2 separate regions of the Homo sapiens genome follow, and region 1 is linked to region 2. The links come from fine-mapping of genetic effects on gene expression. A gene starts in region 2. The other region holds a variant in brackets. All regions are shown on one strand. Distances are between the middles of the regions.

Region 1 (9,286 bases), 110 kb before region 2:
TGAAGATGACAATAAGCCCCTCCCTACGACGGTCATGGGAGATATCACCAAGAGATCATGCAGTTCTTTCCTTGATCACAGCCTCAGAATCCCTCTTAACACAGTGCTCTGTGTTGGCAGCCATTCAGATAACCAATCAGGTACCTCAGGGATAAGAGATTTTGCTCAGGGTTCCCTAACTCTGCTCTATTAACCTTAAGGGCTTGCTCTCATCTGCTCTTGATAGTTTTGGGATTGCAAATGAGGAGACATAAACAGTGGGTTTGCTTCGTTGCTGTGTTGCAGGTTTGGAACAAGAGATCACTGGAGGGCAGGGCTGGACGGCAGCAAGGCCATTTTCAGGCTATGATCTTGGGGTCACCTTTCTACCTCTCTCAGCCTTGTTTTACTCTTCAGTGGAAGAGACGAAAAAGCATTTGACATTATTGTAAGAATCAAATGAAAGACTGTGGGTGGAAGTGCCTAGCAAACTGTGAAGGTTGCATTATCATTTTATTAGGCATGGTATGCAGTACCCATAAGGCAAAGGTCTCCCTCTCTGACTTCCTTGACTCCAGGGTAAATTTGAATTTTGACATATATTAAAATGTAGCTTGGGAGATATTCTGGCAACCGCACACTGTATGTTTTGCATTTGGCTTCCCTGGCCTTTGGTCAGGGTTGAACATGCATTTCAGCAAAAACATGATTGTAAGAAAATATTTCATTAATCAAATGCAATCTCTTTCTTTATAACCTCTGCATTACCGACCCCCTACCTGGCCCCAAAAAGGAAGGCTTGCTGCTTGCACAGACGCCTCCCTCATGGCTCCGAACCATACCCCTGAAGACCTCGCCCAGCAATACACGTTAGCCCACACAACCATGTTTTCCTTTCCAAACCCTAAAAAAAGAAAAGAGCCCTTTCTCTTTTCTTTACCCAGAGTAATCCTGAAATTATGCACCATATCCGGAAGACAGACATGGCCCCAAATTTAATTTTCTGGTTTCTGCAGAGCTGACTTAATCAGACCAGAGTCGAGGAGGGATCCCCCAGGGATGTACCCCCAGAGCTCTGCTACGGCTCCCAACCTGACAAGCCGTGAGACACGGTCACAACACTTTGCCCAGAGCACCATGTGCCTGTGTCTATGTAGGTCTCTGTGTGTGTGGTGTGGGTGCGCACCTGTGTATATGGCTTGCATGTCTGGCAATTGTGTATGTTGACTGTCTCTATCTGTATCCATATGTGCCTCTGTGGTGTCTGTGTGTGGTATGTAGTGTATCTGTATGTGTAGTGTATGTGTGCATCTGTGTGTGTTTGGTGTGTGGGGGGGTGTGTACACACATGTATGCAGGTGGGGGGTATGTGCAAGCATGTGCATGTGTCTATGATGTGTATGTGTGTGTCTGTATGTGGTGCATCCATGTGTGTATGCCTGTATGTGGTGTGGTGGGTGTGTTTGGCATGTGTGCATATATCTGTGTGTGGTGTGTGTTTTGTCTGTGTGGCATGTGTGTGTATGCATGGTGTGTGTGATTGTATGTGTGCAAGTGTGTGTATGTATGGAGTGTGTCTAGGTCTATATGTGCCTCTGTGTGGTGCATGGTTGTGTGTGGTGCATGGTTGTTTGTGGTGCATGTACTTGCACACAGGTGTGTAGTGTATGTGTACGTGTGTGTGTGTGTGTGTATGGAGTGTGTCCGTGTCCGTGTGTGCCTCTGTGTGTGGTGCATGGTTGTGTGTGGTGCGTGTACTTGCACACAGTTATGTGGTGTATGTGTAGGTGTGTGTGTGTGGAGTGTGTCTGTGTCTATGTGTGCCTCTGTGTGTGTGGTGCATGAATAAGGGGTGTGTGTGCATAGGCACTCAGGTGCGTGCACGTGTCTACAGTGTATAGCATGTGTGTCTGTGTGCCCGCGTGACCTGTCACCCATGCCCTAGGATGAAGAATTGATCGTGGGCTCGATCCTGGGGTCCCTGGGACAGTCCCATGCCTTGTTCTCTCCCATGTTCCTCATGGTTATGGAGAACAATGGTTTGGCGAGGACTGGCAGTGCTGTGAGAGATTTCCAAGGTGATTCACATCGAAACTCCCCGTTTGACAGAGAGGGATCTGAGGTACAGAGAGGGAATGGGACTTACCAAAAGTCACAAAGCAAGTTGGTGATGAGTGCGAGGCTGGAACCGATTTCTCCTGCCTCCCCGGCCAGTGTGCTTTCTCCCTGGACCCCTTCAGGGAGGTCACAGCCAGCCTGCTGGGGAGCTGGTCATAGGGAAGGACCTTGCTGGGATTTGGGGATGGACAGCTTGGCTACATGGATTAATCAGGTGGGAAACTGCACGAGCGATGTCCTTGAGCATGAGTTGACAAACGCTTCTGTGAAGGACCAGAGTAAATATTTTAGGACTTTGTAGCGCAAGAGGCAAAATTAAAGCTATTTTGTTGGTACTTACATAACCATGTAAAATGTAACCCACTTAAAAATTTAAAAACCATTCTTACTCCTTGAACTGTGTGAAAACTAGTGGCAGCTAGATTTGACCCACAGGTCTACTCCTGTCCGAGGCGCTGAGAATCAAAACAAACAAGTAGACAAATCTGAACTTACGAAACCCCAAACAGGAGCAAACACAAGAAGGTCAGTGCCAGCAGCCGAGAGCACAGAACAGGCAGCAAACAAAGAGCCATGGCGGTGTTGTGTGAGAAGTGCGGAGCTGAGGTCACAAACTGGCCTGCAGAGATTGGGGGTTGGAATCCCAGGTGTATGGCGCTCAATCACAGACTGTGGTCAGAGAGAGGGTCCATTTTCCAGGATGGTCCAAAATGAGGCAACGGAGAAGAACTCCATAGCAGGAGCAGTGCTCAGGGGAGCAGGAGCCCTGTAGGCTGGAGGGACCTCGGCAGATGCTTGTCCAGTTTTCTCATGGGTGGTAACCTCACACTGCCTGTCCTCAGTGCCATGGTCCACTTGCTGAATGAATGCCCAGGCCTGAAATCTTTGCCCAGTGTCTTATTTGGTCATTTTGTGAGCTGCATGTGTATGTGGGTGTTTTAGTCCATTTGGGCTGTTATAACAAAATATCATAGCCTAGGTGGCTGATAGACAACAGAAATTTATTTCTCATGTTCTGGAGGCTGGGAAGTCAAAGATCAAGGCACAAGCAGTTTCGGTGTCTGGTGAGGGCACGTTTCCTGGTTCATAGATGGTGCCTTCTTGCTGTGTCCTCACATGGTTGAAGGGGCAAGCTCTCCCTCTGGGGTCATTTTAATAATCCCATGCATGACAGCTCCACCATCATGACCTAATCACCCTCCAGAGGCCTCACCTCCTAATACCATCACCTTGCGGGTTAGCATTTCAACGTATGAATTGGGAGTTGGGGGAAATAAACATGCAGGCCTTACCAATGGTCCACAGCCCCCAGGATGACTACTTCTGCTGCAAAACCCCTAACCCTCAGCCCACCCCACAGCTTCACTTGGCATCCACTTGGCATTCACAGCTTCACTTGGCATCAGAATAAAGAATTTGAGCCCAGGCATGGTGACTCACACCTGTAACCCCAGCACTTTGGGAGGCCAAGCAGGCGGATCACTTGAGGTCAGGAGTTCAAGACCAGCCTGGCCAACGTGGCGAAACCCCATCTCTACTAAAAATTCAAAATATTAGCCGGGCGTGGTGGCAGGTGCCCGTAGTCCCAGCTACTTTGGAGGCTGAGGCAGGAGAATCGCTTGAACTTGGGAGGCGGAGGTTGCAGTGAGCTGAGATCGCACCACTGCACTCCAGCCTGGGTGACAGAGTGAGACTCTGTCTCCAAAAAAAAAAAAAAAAAGTATTTGAGCCTAGTTGACCTTGCCTGATATAATGCAACTAGTCAGATGTATAATGCTATAGGATTACAGCCCCCGTGAAGGCTGCTGATGAAAGACAATGGGGAAGGAACGTCCCCCACTGTCTTTGAAATGTGTATTTAGTAGTTCATTTTGCCTAGAAGGAGAAATGACTGAGAGTACAGATCTACACAGAAGAATGGGCAGTACCCAGCACCAGAGAGTAAGCTCCAGGAAGGCAGGGTTTGGGGGTTTCTGTTTTGTTCACCATTTTATTTATTCTTGATGTATAATAAGAGCTTAATAGTCCAGGTGAGGTGGCTCACACCTGTAATCCCAACACTTTGGGAGGCCGGGTG[T/TG]GGGGGGGTGGGGGGTGGATCACAAGGTCAGGAGTTCGAGACCAGCCTGGCCAATATGGTGAAACCGTGTCTCTACTAAAAATACAAAAATTAGTTGGGTGTGGTGGCACCCGCCTGTAGTTCCCAGCTACTCGGGAGGCTGAAGCAGAAGAAGCGCTTTAACCTGGGAGGTGGAGGTTGCAGTGAGCCGAGATCGCGCCACTGCACTCCAGCCTGGGCAACAGAGTGAGACTCCATCTCAAAAAAAATTAAAAAAAAAAAAAGAGCTCAGTGATATTTTTTATTTAAATATTCTTTACTTGATTCTTTCCTTAAGGATGGTCAAGGGCTCGAAAAGGACAAGAATGGGGATTGATAACATGGAAGTTTGAGGAAAATATATATGGGTAGCCCTTTCAGCGAGATCTTGGGTATAACGATATGTATGTACTGTTTGAATGATCATCAAAAGTCCATCTGTGGAGAGAAGGCTCTTGATAATCAGGTGTCCAGACATCACTGGATGTCAGTTCAGTTGCCCATGAACAAGCAGGCCTGGTGGCAGGGATGCGACAGCTAACCTCATAATTTAGTTCACAGACTTCAGGACATCAAGTAAAATTGTGAATGAACCAGAGGAAAACTAACAGAGCACAGAAATGGATATATTGATAAATGGGACGTTTTGCTAAGCACTCACTTGCTCATACGGGGGTAGGTGCATTAGGTGGAATATGGGAGCTATTGTTTCCACTGCTGTTTTTGCTTGGAAGTTTAAATATGGAAATTGGGGTACACCGGGACATGAAGTATCCAGAGGCATGGGCCGTGGGGGATACTGTAGATTTGCTTATTAATTGCCCATTAAACTCCTTGCAAGATGTTTTCCCATAATGCAGAAGGGTAAAGCTAAAATGGCATTGGCCGAGTGTGGTGGCTCACATCTGGAATCCTAGCACTTTGGGAGGCCGAGATAGGAGTTCGAGATCAGCCTGGGCAACATAGGGAGACTGTCTCTAAAAAAAAAATCATTTTTTTAAAAAAATAAATAACATGGCATATCCCTGCCTCCTTTGCTGCTGTGTTCTAAATGTGAACCAGGTTTTTCCAATTCCAACTCTCCTTCATGATGCTGAGTGTGGGAGGGAGGTGCATGAGGAGACAGCTTGACATGGGCACCCCTTTGCTGCAGTGCAACGGAGGCGAGGCCTTTAGTCCGCAGCTGCAGTATTCTCCCTGTCTGGCAGCCTCCTGCGGGGCAGCAGCAGCAACTTTCTCCACCATGAAAGAGGCAGCATGGTCCTGAGGCTGAGCTCCTCCTGAAATCTCAGATTAGAGTCTGTTCTTCAACAATTTTGTGAGCCATTTTATACCCCATCATAAATCCCTTTCTCCTTAAGCTAGTTAGAGTGGATTCTGTTTTTTGCAACTGACTGCTGACTGATTCTAGACTCTCCCCTTAACAAGCATCTTCAGGACACTTGTAAGCCCATAAGGGAGATCCCGGACTCCTGGCAGTAGTTGCAGGGCAGTACTTTGGGGTCAGAGTATGCATCCTAGAGAATGTAAAAGAAGATACTTCTTCAGAACCTGCCTAGCATGACCCAGGAAGGCATTTGGGATGGGGTGGTATAAATAGCTTCCAGTTATGGAGTGTGTCCTATGGGCTGAGCACTGTGAAAGCCCTTTACACATACTATCCCATTTAATCCGCCCAACCACATTCCTTTGAGATAAGTATTCCAGAAGATGGGAGAACTTTGTTAAGGTCCAATGCCTTGCAGATTTGGTTGCTTGGAGCCAAACACTGATCAGGATGATTCCAAGCCTGTTCCTAGAACAGTTTCACCGTCACTTTTAAGGGAGTAAGTTAAGAGCAAAAGAGAAACTTCACATTTTTTTTCCAGGGCCATAAAAAATCATATTTTTAAAAATAAAATTTTTAGTGATCTTACTACTGGGAATTTATCCAAAGGAAAGGAAATCATTATATTGAAGAGACATCTGCACCTTCATGTTTATTGCAGCACTGTTCACAATAGCCACGATATGGGATCAACGTAGGTGTCCAACAACAGATGGATGTAAAAAATATGGGATATATACACAATGGAATACCATTCAGCCATTAAAAAAAGAGAAATCTCGTCATTCGTGGCAACACGGATAGAACTAGAGGACATTATGTTAAGCAAAATAAGCCAGGAACAGAAAGTTAAACACCACATGTTCTCACTCATATGTGATAGCTAAAAAAAGTTGATCTCATAGAAGTAAAAAGTAAAATGGGATACTAGAAGCTAGGGAGAGTAGGAGGAAGGAAGCATAGGGAGAGACTTGTTAAATGATACAAATTACAGCTAGATAGGATAAATAAGTTCTAGAATATTACACCACTGTAGGCTGACTATAGTTAACAACAGTATATAGTTTCAAATAGCTAGAAGAAGGATGCTGAATGTTCCCAAAACAAAGAAATGATAAATGTTTGAGATGCTGGATATGCTAATTACCCTGATCTGATCACTTACATTATATGTATCAAAACATCACTGTGTACCCCATGAATATATAACATTACTATTTGTCCATTAAAAGAAAAGAATTTTAAGTGTGGAAAGAAAGAAAATATGTAAGCTGATGAAAAAAGAAGGAAATAGACATTTTTCTAGTGTTCAAATCATACAGTGCTTGTCCTAAATACTGCTGAATTTGCCACTTGGAAGGGAAGACTAATCTGTTTTGGAACATGCCATTATTTAGCATGTAACTTTTTACTATTTCTTGATTATAAAGATATCATTAAAAACTGCAAAATCAGTTTTTGAAATGTTCAATGCTTTTAAAAATTCAGATCTTTTCATTTACTAGATTGGCAAAACAGATTATTGATAAGATTCTATTCATTTCATTCTAATGAAAATAGAAATGAAATAAAATGGAACAAACAATAAATAAAATTTTTGGCCAGGCGCAGTGGCTTACGCCTGTAATCCCAGCACTTTGGGAGGCCAAGGCGGGTGGATCACGAGGTCAGGAGATCGAGACCATCCTGGCTAACATGGTAAAACCCCGTCTCTACTAAAAATACAAAAAATTAGCTGGGTGTGGTGGCGGGCGCCTGTAGTCCCAGCTACTCAGGAGGCTGAGGCAGGAGAACGGAGTGAACCCGGGAGGTGGAGCTTGCAGTGAGCTGAGATGGCGCCATTGCACTCCAGCCTGGGCGACAGAGTGAGACTCCGTCTCAAAAAAAAATAAATAAAATTTTTATTTGGAATCATTTAGAAAAGGTGCAAAAACAGCACAAAGTTCCCATAACCTTCACCCAGTGATACACTCTGGATGTTTGTCCTTCCAGATTTCATGGAATCCCCAGTGCTGGAGGTGGGGCCTGGTGGGAGGTATTGGATCACGGGGGAGATTGCTCATGAGTGGCTTAGCGCCATCATCCCCCTGGTGATAAGTGAATGCTTGCTCACAGAGATCGGGTTGTTTAACAGAGTGTGGTACTTTTCTCCCTCTCTCTCTTGATCCTACTCTGGCCATATGACATGCTGGCTCCCTGTCACCTTCTGCCATGATTGTAGGCTTCCTTAGAACCTCACCAGAAGTGGATGCCAGCACCATGTTTCCCGTTCAGCCTGCAGAACTGTGAACCAATTAAACCTCCTTTCTTTATAAATATCCAGCTCCAGGTATTTCTTTATAGCTACACAAAAATAGACAAACACACCCAGTCTCCTCTAACGGTAACATCTTACATGTCCATGGGGAATTTGTCAACACCAAGAAATTAACACCAGTGCAATAGCGTTAATGAAACTGCTAACTTGATCTGTGTATCATTGGCCTTTCCACTAATGCCTGTTCACTGTTCCAGGATGCAATGCAGGATTCCACATTGCATTCAGCATTGTGGTTTGTTGCTTTTTACTTTTTGTTATCCCATCACCTCATTCCAAAGGAAAAGGGCCTCAGTGATTTGCACAAGCCCAAAGAGAGGAAACAGATAGCATGAGACAGGCCATGTCTCAGAACAATTTAGAGCAATTTCCCTCGCTGTCCATTGGTAGAGGAGCCCTCCTATTAGAAATTAGCAGCAGCAGGCCACAGTGAAAACCAAGCTGGAGCGGGGAGCAGGGACCAGGATGCACGCCAGTATGCAACTGCAATACGGAATTCCAGCCCGGAAGCCCTGAGCAAGTTGGGGTCTCTCCTTTTGCAGCATAATGAAAGGTAGCAGGACGGAGAGCCAGGGCTGCAGAGGCAGTGACAGAGGAGGCTGGCAGGGCCAAGTAGCTGAGTAACATTCTCACCAAGAGGATTCCACGAGAAGGTGATGGATCTCTCCAATTAACCATGTCATGGTTGGGCTTGGAAGCCGTGGATGAAAACTGAGGTAAGATAATTATTTCCATGGGACGCCTGGTTGTGAAAAAAATCACACGGTCATAAAAATGAATGAGTCGTCCAGCCAGAAACACTAGAGAACTCAGTAAAGATTTAGAAACCGTGTGTGTTTAATGCTACTCTCACAGTGGGCTGGGTTCCCACAAAAGGTGCTAAATTAAAACAAGGAAGGGTAAATCTAGTTTTCTCACTGAAACAGCGTTTTAACCCTGAAGTTCCTGACCCCAGGTTTGATGCTTCTGCTGTGGAAATAAACATGTATACCACGTTTAGTTAACATAAATGACACGTGGCATACCTTTATGTTATACGGATTAAGGCTTCTTCAGATCAGCTAAACAGGGCTATGCCGTGATCAATTCCATATAGACCTAAAAGGCAGAGCATCCCCGTGGACAGAGTTCTGTCTTTCTTCAAAAAGCATGCTGCTTTATTTTTTGGACAACTACTTAGAAGGTAAGGGTTCTTGTTATTCGGGGCCACAAGACTCACAAGTGTTTCTGTGAGGGTACTTAGCACCACTCTAAGACTTTAGACAATGGATCCCGATATGCTGGGTGAAATCACCTCCCTCAGTTGTAAACTCCTTGTAGCCAGCAGTGGTCTTGCTGCGGCCTGATAGTGGAAAGTGATTCTTCCATTTGCAGGGTCCTCTATAGGAGTGCTGGCAACCTGGCTTCATCTGCCCTAAACAAGGCAGATGGAAAAACCAAGGACCGCTCC
Region 2 (9,286 bases):
GTAATCCCAGCATTTTGGGAGACCGAGGTGGGTGGATCACGAGGTCAGGAGATTGAGACCATCCTGGCCAACAAGGTGAAACCCTGTCTCTACTAAAAATACAAAAAAATAATAATAATAAAATTAGCTGGGCATGGTGGCATGCAACTGTAGTCCCAGCTACTCAGGAGGCTGGGGCAGGAGAACTGCTTGAACCCGGGAGGCAGAGGTTACGGTGAGCTGAGATCACACCACTGCACTCCAGCCTGGGAGACAGAGCAAGACTCCTTCTCAAAAAATAAATAAATAAATAAATTAAATAAAATAAATAAAATGATCCTATCAGTTTAATCTCAGGTATACTTCCCGTCTCTCTCCCTGAGTGCCCTAAGGAGGAGCCTTGTGACCCAAGACTCTCACTGGTCTGTCTGTCGGGTGGTGTCTGCATGAGAGTCACACAGCTGTGGCAGCCTGGAGAGAAGTGTATTCCCTACGTGTGTGACCTCGGCCAGGACACTTCGTTTTGTTATAAAACCAGTAGATTGGTCCAGGTGACCTGAGGTTCCTTCCAGCTCAAATATTTCAGGATTTTATGATTCAGAAGCATAAATCATTAGGCCAGGACCTTTAAAAATCCTGTTGATCATCTGAGGTCATAGAGTGTTATTATTATCTTACTTGTTGTATGATTTGGGAAGACAGAGATCATGTCTCCTACATTAAAGATCGTGTCTCCTACATAAAGATTTATGACACATAAAATCATGTGTCATACAACAGAATTTTTTGCTTTATTTTTTAAATCCAGCCAGATTAACATTGGAATCTGAGGAGAGAGGCAGATTTTCTAAGAAAGCATCTGAAAATGCTCCACATGATCTTTTAATTTCATTTGTATTATGTAAGATTATATATATATAATGGAATATATGCGCCTCCTATTTGTAAATAATGAAGCATAAAAATATTTAAAAATAACGCCCTTAGCCAGGCATGGTGGCACATGCCTGTAATCCCAGCTACTCAGGAGGCTGAGGCAGAACAATGGCTTGAACCTGGGAGGTGGAGGTTGCTGTGAGCTGAGATTGTGCCACTGCACTCCAGCCTGGGCAACAGAGTGAGACTCTGTCTCAAAAAAATAAATAAATAGGCTGGGCACGGTGGCTCATGCCTGTAATCCTAGCACTTTGGGAGGCTGAGGTGGGCAGATCACGAGGTCAGGAGATCAAGACCATCCTGGCTAACACGATGAAACCCCGTCTCTACTAAAAAAAAAAATACAAAAAATTAGCCGGACGTGGTGGTGGGCGCCTGTAGTCCCAGCTACTCGGGAGGCTGAGGCAGGAGAATGGCGTAAACCCGGCAGGTGGAGCTTGCAGTGATCCGAGATCAGGCCACTGCACTCCAGCCTGGGTGACAGAGCAAGACTCTGTCTCAAAAAATAAATAAATACATACATAAAATAAATAAAAAATAACACTCACAAGCCTACCACTGGACTGAAGAAACAGAACATAATGGATCCCACTGAGAGTGAAACAGACATCTCCCTGATCAATTACCCACTTCTCCCCAAAGATAATCACCTTGATTTTGCATTATCATTCCCTTGCCTTTTTCTTTTTTAAACCAGCTTAACTTTGTGAAATAGAATCTACGTATAAAGGCATGTATAAAACATACATGTAATTAGCCAGTAACTACAAAGTGATCTCCTTTGTAACTGCCCCCCCGACTCTCCTGATCCTCTCTCACCTTTCCTCAGCACGCGTGGTAATGCTTGGCTTTTATTTAAGCTAATCACCTTCTTGCTTTTTGTCGTCATTTTACTTCTCAGCTATGTGTCACTAAACAACTCATTGCTTAGTTTGGTTGTGTTTTGAGCTTTTATAATTGCCTTAGCAGTTCTCCATGGAGATGCTAGGATTCTCTATACCACGTCTGCAGCCTAGAAACCCAGGCGAGAGATCCAGGCTGCACTCTGGTGTTACAATGATAGTAGAGGGTTAGTAATAATAAAAACCATCAGTCCTATTTATGGTGTGCCCGCACCATGCCGGGCATTCTGCTAAAGCATCATCCCCAGTTACCTCAATTATCTTCGCAGCAACCCCAAAAGGGAAGTATTTCAAGAGGTCAAAATTAGGGCATCAGCTTCCCAAACTTGTCCCCCGTCCACTTCCTAGCTTCCTAGCTGCTCAGCCCCAGAACATCATCCCTAAGTCCTAAAGCAAAGGTTCCTTTCAGGATGGGAGGGTCAGGAAACACTGCTGCTCCTGGGTTCCTATCTTTGTGGTCCAGTCAGGCTGCTTAGATTATATATATATATATATATATATATATATATATATTCAGAATCCATATTCTTTTCCAGCAAGTACTGATGACTTAATGAAGACAAGCATCCTGTCCGGTCAGTACTGTTTTCCCAGTGATGAACGTACAACTTTGTCCTTGGATTGTCTAAGATAGGCCATGTGGTGCCAGGAAGAGCATCAGGTCAAAAGCCCTTAGTTCTAATCCTGGCTGTACCACATCCAGCCGCTGGATATCAGCCTTCTCATCTGTAAATGGGCAAGCAATGACAGCCTTGCCTACTACCAGATCCTAGGAGGTGAGAGGCAGGAAGAGCTTTGGAAGACCCCACGAACACATTTGAGTCCCTCTGTAGGCTTCTCTAGAACCCTTCAGAGTTGAAAGGGGTGACCAGGAACCTGGGAAAGAGTCCCAGGGCAGCCCAGGGTTGGAGCTTCAGGGCCAAAGTGGTTAACTGAAAATATTCATTATCACCCCGCCCAGGCTGGAGTCCCCTGGCTTCCAGTTTTGAAGCAGAGGTCAGCTAGGCGGTGTAGGACACTGCTCCTGGGTTGACCAATGGGCCACATCAATGGGTCAGCTGTTTGGGGTCAAGAGCCTCCTGCCCTCCCTGGGGCCAAGGGCCAGCTTTCAGTGCTGGGAGGACCATGAGGGGGGTGAGCCAGGACTACCCACCATTGACAGACAAGGGGAAATCAAGGCAGGGAGAAGAGGGGCAGAGGCAGAGCAGAGGGGAACCCAGGTATCCCGACGAGGCCCCTTCGCCTCAAACTGTGACACCTTCTCACATGTGCTGTGTCTGACACCATACAAAATGCTGATCAGGGCAAAGCTCGTTTAGTGCTCATGAGGCCCTGCGAGGCAACACCTGCCGTGCTATGGTTAGCCCCTTTCCACGGGGAAGGACGCTGAAGCTCTGAAAGGTGAAGCAACTTTCCCAAGGCTACACAGCCAGGAACGGGCTAAGGCAGGACTGGACTCAGGCAATCCAACTTGACTGCCCCATTCCTAACAGCTGGACAATGCGGGAAGCCTAGCTGCCCAGTGGGTTCCCAAAGGCTCCAGGGTGCTTTTGACGTTGAGCTGGGCCTGCCCAGTCTTGCCTCCCGGGGCCGCCAAGCCAGGGCCCCCCGGCAGCCCGCTCCAGGCTGCATCACAAGGCAAAGGGGCTGCCCAGGCATGGCCAGGTCCATGGCTGCTGGAGAGCATGCAAAGCACCCGAGCAGGAGCCTTGTTCCCATGGAGACAGACAGAAAGGACTCCAACTCACTCTGAAGTGTACCTGCAGGGAGCCAGGTGCCAGACTGTACCTGGAGGCAGAAACCTGAGCCTGGATTCTCACCACTTCCCTCTGTGCCACCAACACATCCTCAGGCCTTCTTCTCAGGACCCCCAGCAAGACACGAGTTCCAGAAATAAGACATCCCAGCCCACTTCCCGCTCAGCCACCCCCAGAGGGGCCTCTCTGGTTGAAAACAACGCCTGGGGCCAGCAGGCTTGGCACAGCTGTGGCTGTCAGCCTGCCGAGCACCGTCCGGCCTGAGGAATGTGCAGACCCACATGTGCTGGAGCATCCCGCTGGGGCACAGTGACAGGAAACTGAGCAAAACAGCTCGTTGGCACTGATATGCCCCTCCCACCTCCCAGCTCCTGACTCCTATGGGCTGTTGGCTGCCCTGGAAGTGCAGGCGGCAAGCCCAGGCCCTTCAAGAGAGCCAGGCAGTGTGGCTCTGGGCAAATCACTCCCCCTCTCTGGGCCTGTTTCTGCTTCTCTTGGTGGATGAAGGACGCTGTCCTGCCAAGCTCAGAATGGCAGTGATTTTATGACATGCTCTCCTTTCTGGGAGGACGGTCCATTCTCCTCATGCCCTCATTCATGTGGGATGGGGCATGCCCCCAAGACACATCAAGCTATCCCACTAGCAGCCCTTGGCTGTAGAAAGCCCCCCCACCCAGTGCAGGGATAAGGGTGACCCTTCAGAGTTGAAAGGGGTGACCAGGAACCTGGGAGAGTCCCAGGAAAGCCCAGGGTTGGAGCTTCAGGGCCAAAGTGGTTAACTGAAAATATTCATTATCACCCCGCCCAGGCTGGAGGCCCCTGGCTTCCAGTTTTGAAGCAGAGGTCAGCTGGGCGGTGTAGGACACTGCTCCCGGGTTGACCAATGGGCCACATCAATGGGTCTGCTGTTTGGGGTCAAGATCCCAAGACCCCAGGGGAAGTCAACATCCATCTGAGGCTCTCTCAGGCCCTGCAAGCCATCTCTGGCCTCACTGCCCTCCCCTTTAGAAATGTGGGAATGAGGCTCAGAGAGGTTGAGCTGCTTGCCAAGTTTGCATAGCCAAAAGGCGTCTGAACGAAACTGAGCATTCGGGGTTGGACTTCCCCTCTTCGCCGCCTGCTCTGCTCTCCCAGGCACTACTGAGCGCGCTCGCGGTCGCCAGGAGCGGATTGGGCCCCCGCCGCGCGCAAGCCTTGGTGACAGGTCAGCCCGCCCCTAGGGGAGGCAGAGGGAAGCCCCGAGGAGGCACCCGGCCCGCTGGGGCGCGCTGCCCGGGGCTTTAGGGCTTTTTCTTGTGGGCCGGCCGAAGCTCCCCGGGGTTGAAAGGAAAGGCTCGGGAATTTCGCAGCCAGCACAGAACGGTTGGATTTAAACTAAAAATACCCGCCCGCCCGCAGCTGTCACGCCGGGGCCCCCGCCCCCGCGCCGGGCGCGCCTCCCCAGGTCCCCCAGACTTTCGGCGCCCCCGATTCCCGGGGCTGTGTCAGAGCTGGGCCAGGGGCTGAGGACCCCACCCGCCCGGCCCCCGGCCCCCGGCCCCCGGCCCCAGGCCTGGCCTCCCGGCCCCGTGCCACTTACCCTCCCGGAGCGTGGAGGAGCGCGGCGCCGCGGGTAGCTGGGGCCGAGCCTCCTTCCCTCCTCCCTGCGTCCCGGGCGGCTCCGGGGCGGGGCAGGGCTGGGGCGGGCCCGGACACCGCGAGTACCCCCGCCCCCGCCGGGACCCGCCCGGTGGCCCCGCGGGAGAGGCCGCGCCCCTCTCCGCACGCGCTCAGCGGAGGCCCCGGGTGCGCAACCCCAGCCCGGCGGACATCCTGCGTGGCCCCGGGGACCAGGGCCGAAGAAAAGCCTCACCGCTCCCTGTCGCGGACCCGGGGCGGGGGTTAAGGGGGGGGTCCTGTCCACGCTTGCCTGGAAAGCAGCCCGGAGCCCTGGCCCCTGTCTGTCTCCCCGACACACACACAGCCACCCACCCTCTTCTCATCCTAGGGGATGGCGCGGAGCTGCCTCTCCGGGAAAGTTGGATCTGTGCGCCCAGACATGGAAAAGGGATTAGGACACCGGCAGATCTTGCCCTCACAGAGCGGAGGTGGGGGCCTTGGAAGGGGCACACCGCCCGTAGGCGCGAAATCCAAGAAGAAAATGACACTCATCAGCCAGCCTCGCGCGGGGAGAAAGGGCGGGGTGGGGGGTAGTGGCACCCTGCCCGTCCTCTCCCACCCCCACAGTCCGGGCCCACAGTCCAGGAGTCACAAGGGATGTGAATCCCCAGGCATAATGTGAACCCCCAACAAACCCAAGGCCTCAGAATGCGCCTCACCTCTCCCTCCCCACCAGCAGAAACATCCTCCCACTCTCCCAACCCCTGCTCCAGCCACGCCAACCCTTTAACCTTGTCCCAGAATGTCTAAACTGTATCTGCCTCTGTGCCTGTGCACATGAAGTTGCCTTGGCCCGGCGTTTGCTCCACAGCCTTCTGCCAAACTCCTACTGCTTGATGGCTGGAAGCCTTCGCACCCTGGCGCTCTCCTCCCAGGTCAGCAGTCACTGGCCTTCCTGTGCATCCAGCCCAGCTTTGAACAGTCCTGGGCCCCAACCCTTATCTTTTTCCGAGTAATTACATGGTTGCATGATTGGCTTCACCGCCTCTGGATCAGATGAGCGCTACTAATGAAGGATACAAGTTGTAAAACTAGGTTTTATGTGAACTCCAGTCATCACAGTTTAGGTGCGGCTAGCGATTTTACAGATGCGGGGTTAGTAACTGGCCCAAATCCAGGGCTTCCGGGATGCTGTTTTCCTTTTTTGTTTCTTAGCAGGGATGGCAGATGTTTGTAGAACAGATCCGTGTAAAAGTCAGTATCCTAAGAGATTAAATTGTAAAGCAGGACAAGATAGTTAACGGTGTGTGTGTGTGTGTGTGTGTGTGTGTGTGTGTGTGTATGTCTTTTCCAAATTGAGAGGGAGGTAGAAGAATTAGCCAAAACCCAGGATTCACTCTGAGGTAGACCCACACCTCTTAGTTAGATCCCATTTATTAAGCTGTAATTATTCACAGCGTTGCTGAAGATATACACAGGGCCCCTCCCATCTCCCTGCGACTGACTGGTTCCAAGTATGCTATTATATGTGTTATTATCACTGTGGCTCAATTAGAAGTGCTGCCGAAGGCCTTGAGGTTGCCACAGTCAAACTGCAGGTGCAGGCAGCGAGTAACAATGATTATAATGCCTGCATCTGGATCGCGCTTTTTGCTTTTCAGAATGCTTTCAAATGTGTCTCCTCATTAAATCTCTGCAAACATCCTCCAGGTAGTTAGGAAAAGTTTAATGAGTTTTGCCTGACAAGGGAAACCAAGACACAAAGAGGGCAGGTGACTTGCACAAGGAGAGAGATGGCTCCCCCAGGCTGCTCCAAGGGTGGAGCTGGCCACTGTAACTCAATGTCCTGCAGGAAGAGATGGTTGGGTACAGTTAGGAGCTCAGGCTCTAGTGCCAAAGTGCCCAATTTGCAACTTTCAGCTGATTACTCATACTTGGTTTCCTTTTCTGTTGAATAGATCTAATAATAGGAGCTTATCTTGTATGGTTTTGTGCCTGGTATTTGAGCACCCAACTCAGGCGAGCTGTTATGTTATGGTTCTGGGAATGGTATGATTGCTACAGTTTCTGCCATACAGCTATTCAGTCTTTCGTCAAACATTCCTGAGTATCTACTATGTGCTAGTCTCTGGGAATATGAAGAAGAATGAGGCATAGACTACTACCTCCAAGGAGGTCAGGGTGTAATAATTCTGTGTCAGGGGACCATGGTGCACAGAGATGAACTGTCCCTCCTGCTGCCGGTGCAGTGCAGAGCACCAGTTCAGAGCAGTGGAGATATTCACTTTCCAGGCCCAGCTTTGCTACTTATTTAGCTGAGTGAATCTTACACTGTAAGATTCTGTTACACATACAGTGTGCACATACAGTCTAATCTTACACTGAATGTGACCTCTTACAACATTGGTTTTTCTCATCTGTTAGATGGGGATAGCAATAATTTTTCATAGGTGAAAACACATGTGATAAACATATTTTATAAAGTACAAAATACTGTGCAGATAGTTTTGTTATTATCAATGTGATTGTTATTATCTTGGGCTTTACAGGGCTTGCTGCTTTTCAGAATACTCTCCCATTCCATTGCTTTTCTTAGAGTCTCGCTCTGTCACCCAGGTTGGAGTGCAGTGGTGCAATCTTGACTCACTGCAACCTCCTCTCAGATTCAAGCAACTCTTGTGCCTCGGCCACTTGAATAGCTGGGTCTACAGGCACACACCACCACACCCAGCTAATTTTTTGTATTTTTAGTAGCGACAGCATTTCACCATGTTGGCCAGGCTGGTCTCGAACTCCTGACCTCAAGATATCTGCCTGCTTGGCCTCCCAAAGTGCTGGAATTACAGGTGTGAGCCACCATGCCCGGCCATCCATTACTTTTCTTAAGCCTGACATAAACATCACATCAAAAACAGAACCCTATTTTTTATTTGATGCCAATCTTTTTCTCTCCAAAGTAGTCCACATGGAAGGAAAACAAAAGTTGAGTAAGCAATGCGAAGGGATGGGGCAGTTTACAACTAGGAAGTCCACAATACCTTCGTCTTCAGCATTACCTGCAGCTACATAAGGGGGTGGACATGAAAACCCATCTGGAAAAAAAAATCTGGCAAAGGATTGGGGGAAGAGCCCCTTTGTCATCTCTGGAATTGAACACAGGAAACCCCGCCCTGAGACCTTCCTTTCAGAAGCAGCCCAGAGAGGGAACCACAAGAAGGGCACTAAAATTATGCTGTTCGGAAGTTCTGACTCACTTGGCAGCGCGGGCTGTTTGTGCAACGTACCAAATGTCCTCCAAAAAGCGAAGTTTTTACCACTCTTTCCCTCTGTCCCTTCCCTGCAGCCAGCATCTCCACCACCACTCATGGGGAAGCAGGAATCAATTTAATAAGCCTGGGGAAATTATCTGGGTCTGTTTCACATTTGCTGTTGGTTAGCCAGCTTCAGTGGCAATCTGCACAATCCTCATTTTGTAAGCATGATTTTTTCAGTTGTTTGTGTGTGTGTGTTCAGTCTCCACAGATAGATTACAACAAAAGCTGCAATGGCTTTTCTGGCTAATAAAACACCTCATGGGTAAACTGAGGCAAGAGAGTAGGGACGAGGGGCATTGCCCAGGGTTCCAGGATAGGAATTGCTGTTCAGAACATTTACATTCCCATCTCTCCATCTCTAGCCTGGCTTCCCACTTAGTGGTGAAGTACATAAGTGCTTTCAGCTTAATACGGATGAAAAGCTCACATTAAGGGTGCCCACTTCTGGGGTGCCCCATCAGAGAGGTCTTGGTCTGAGCCTGGAGAGCTCGTTCTCAACCCAGTTCTGCTCTGAACTTTTCCTTCTTCTTTGTTTTTTCCTTGCCGGTTCTCCAAGTGTTAGCCTGTCCTTTCCCACTTGGGTGCTACATGTGCTTCTAGGGTGAGCACAGCCAGCACCCTGGTTTGTTCACTTCCTCATGGGCAGCTGCCACCCATCAACTGAGCAGAGGTACCCCTCTGGGTGGCAATGAGTCATCTCAGTACCAAGCAGGGGAACTGGAGTAACTTGGAATATTCCTCTACATACATTTAATTGTACTGCATTTATAAAATACAATTATATATAACATACAGGACT

Direction of the effects. Positions count from the first base shown, and alleles are read on the strand shown. Sizes are in standard deviations (SD) of each study's normalised expression.
As copies of T replace TG in region 1, the expression in prefrontal cortex of the gene that starts at base 4,678 in region 2 goes up (moderate effect, 0.59 SD a copy in BrainSeq).

The links. PIP is the estimated chance that this variant, and not a neighbour inherited with it, causes the effect.
Region 1: its variant is fine-mapped to the expression of SYNE3-AS1 in prefrontal cortex (BrainSeq, PIP 0.95).

What each region holds. Positions count from the first base shown.
Region 1 is chr14:95,396,473-95,405,758 of GRCh38, forward strand. It overlaps LOC105370640 (a long non-coding RNA gene), which reads right to left and starts at 8,634. Exons shown (of 3, transcript XR_944174.3): 1 at 8,470-8,634; 2 at 2,126-2,360. The variant T/TG (reference allele first, on the strand shown) is at 4,175.
Region 2 is chr14:95,511,443-95,520,728 of GRCh38, forward strand. SYNE3-AS1 (SYNE3 antisense RNA 1) reads left to right here and starts at 4,678. Exons shown (of 2, transcript NR_188030.1): 1 at 4,678-4,778; 2 at 5,562-6,469. SYNE3 (spectrin repeat containing nuclear envelope family member 3) reads right to left here and starts at 5,208. Exons shown (of 18, transcript NM_152592.6): 1 at 5,154-5,208. RefSeq lists silencers at 4,610-4,904, 4,654-5,463 and an enhancer at 6,888-7,037.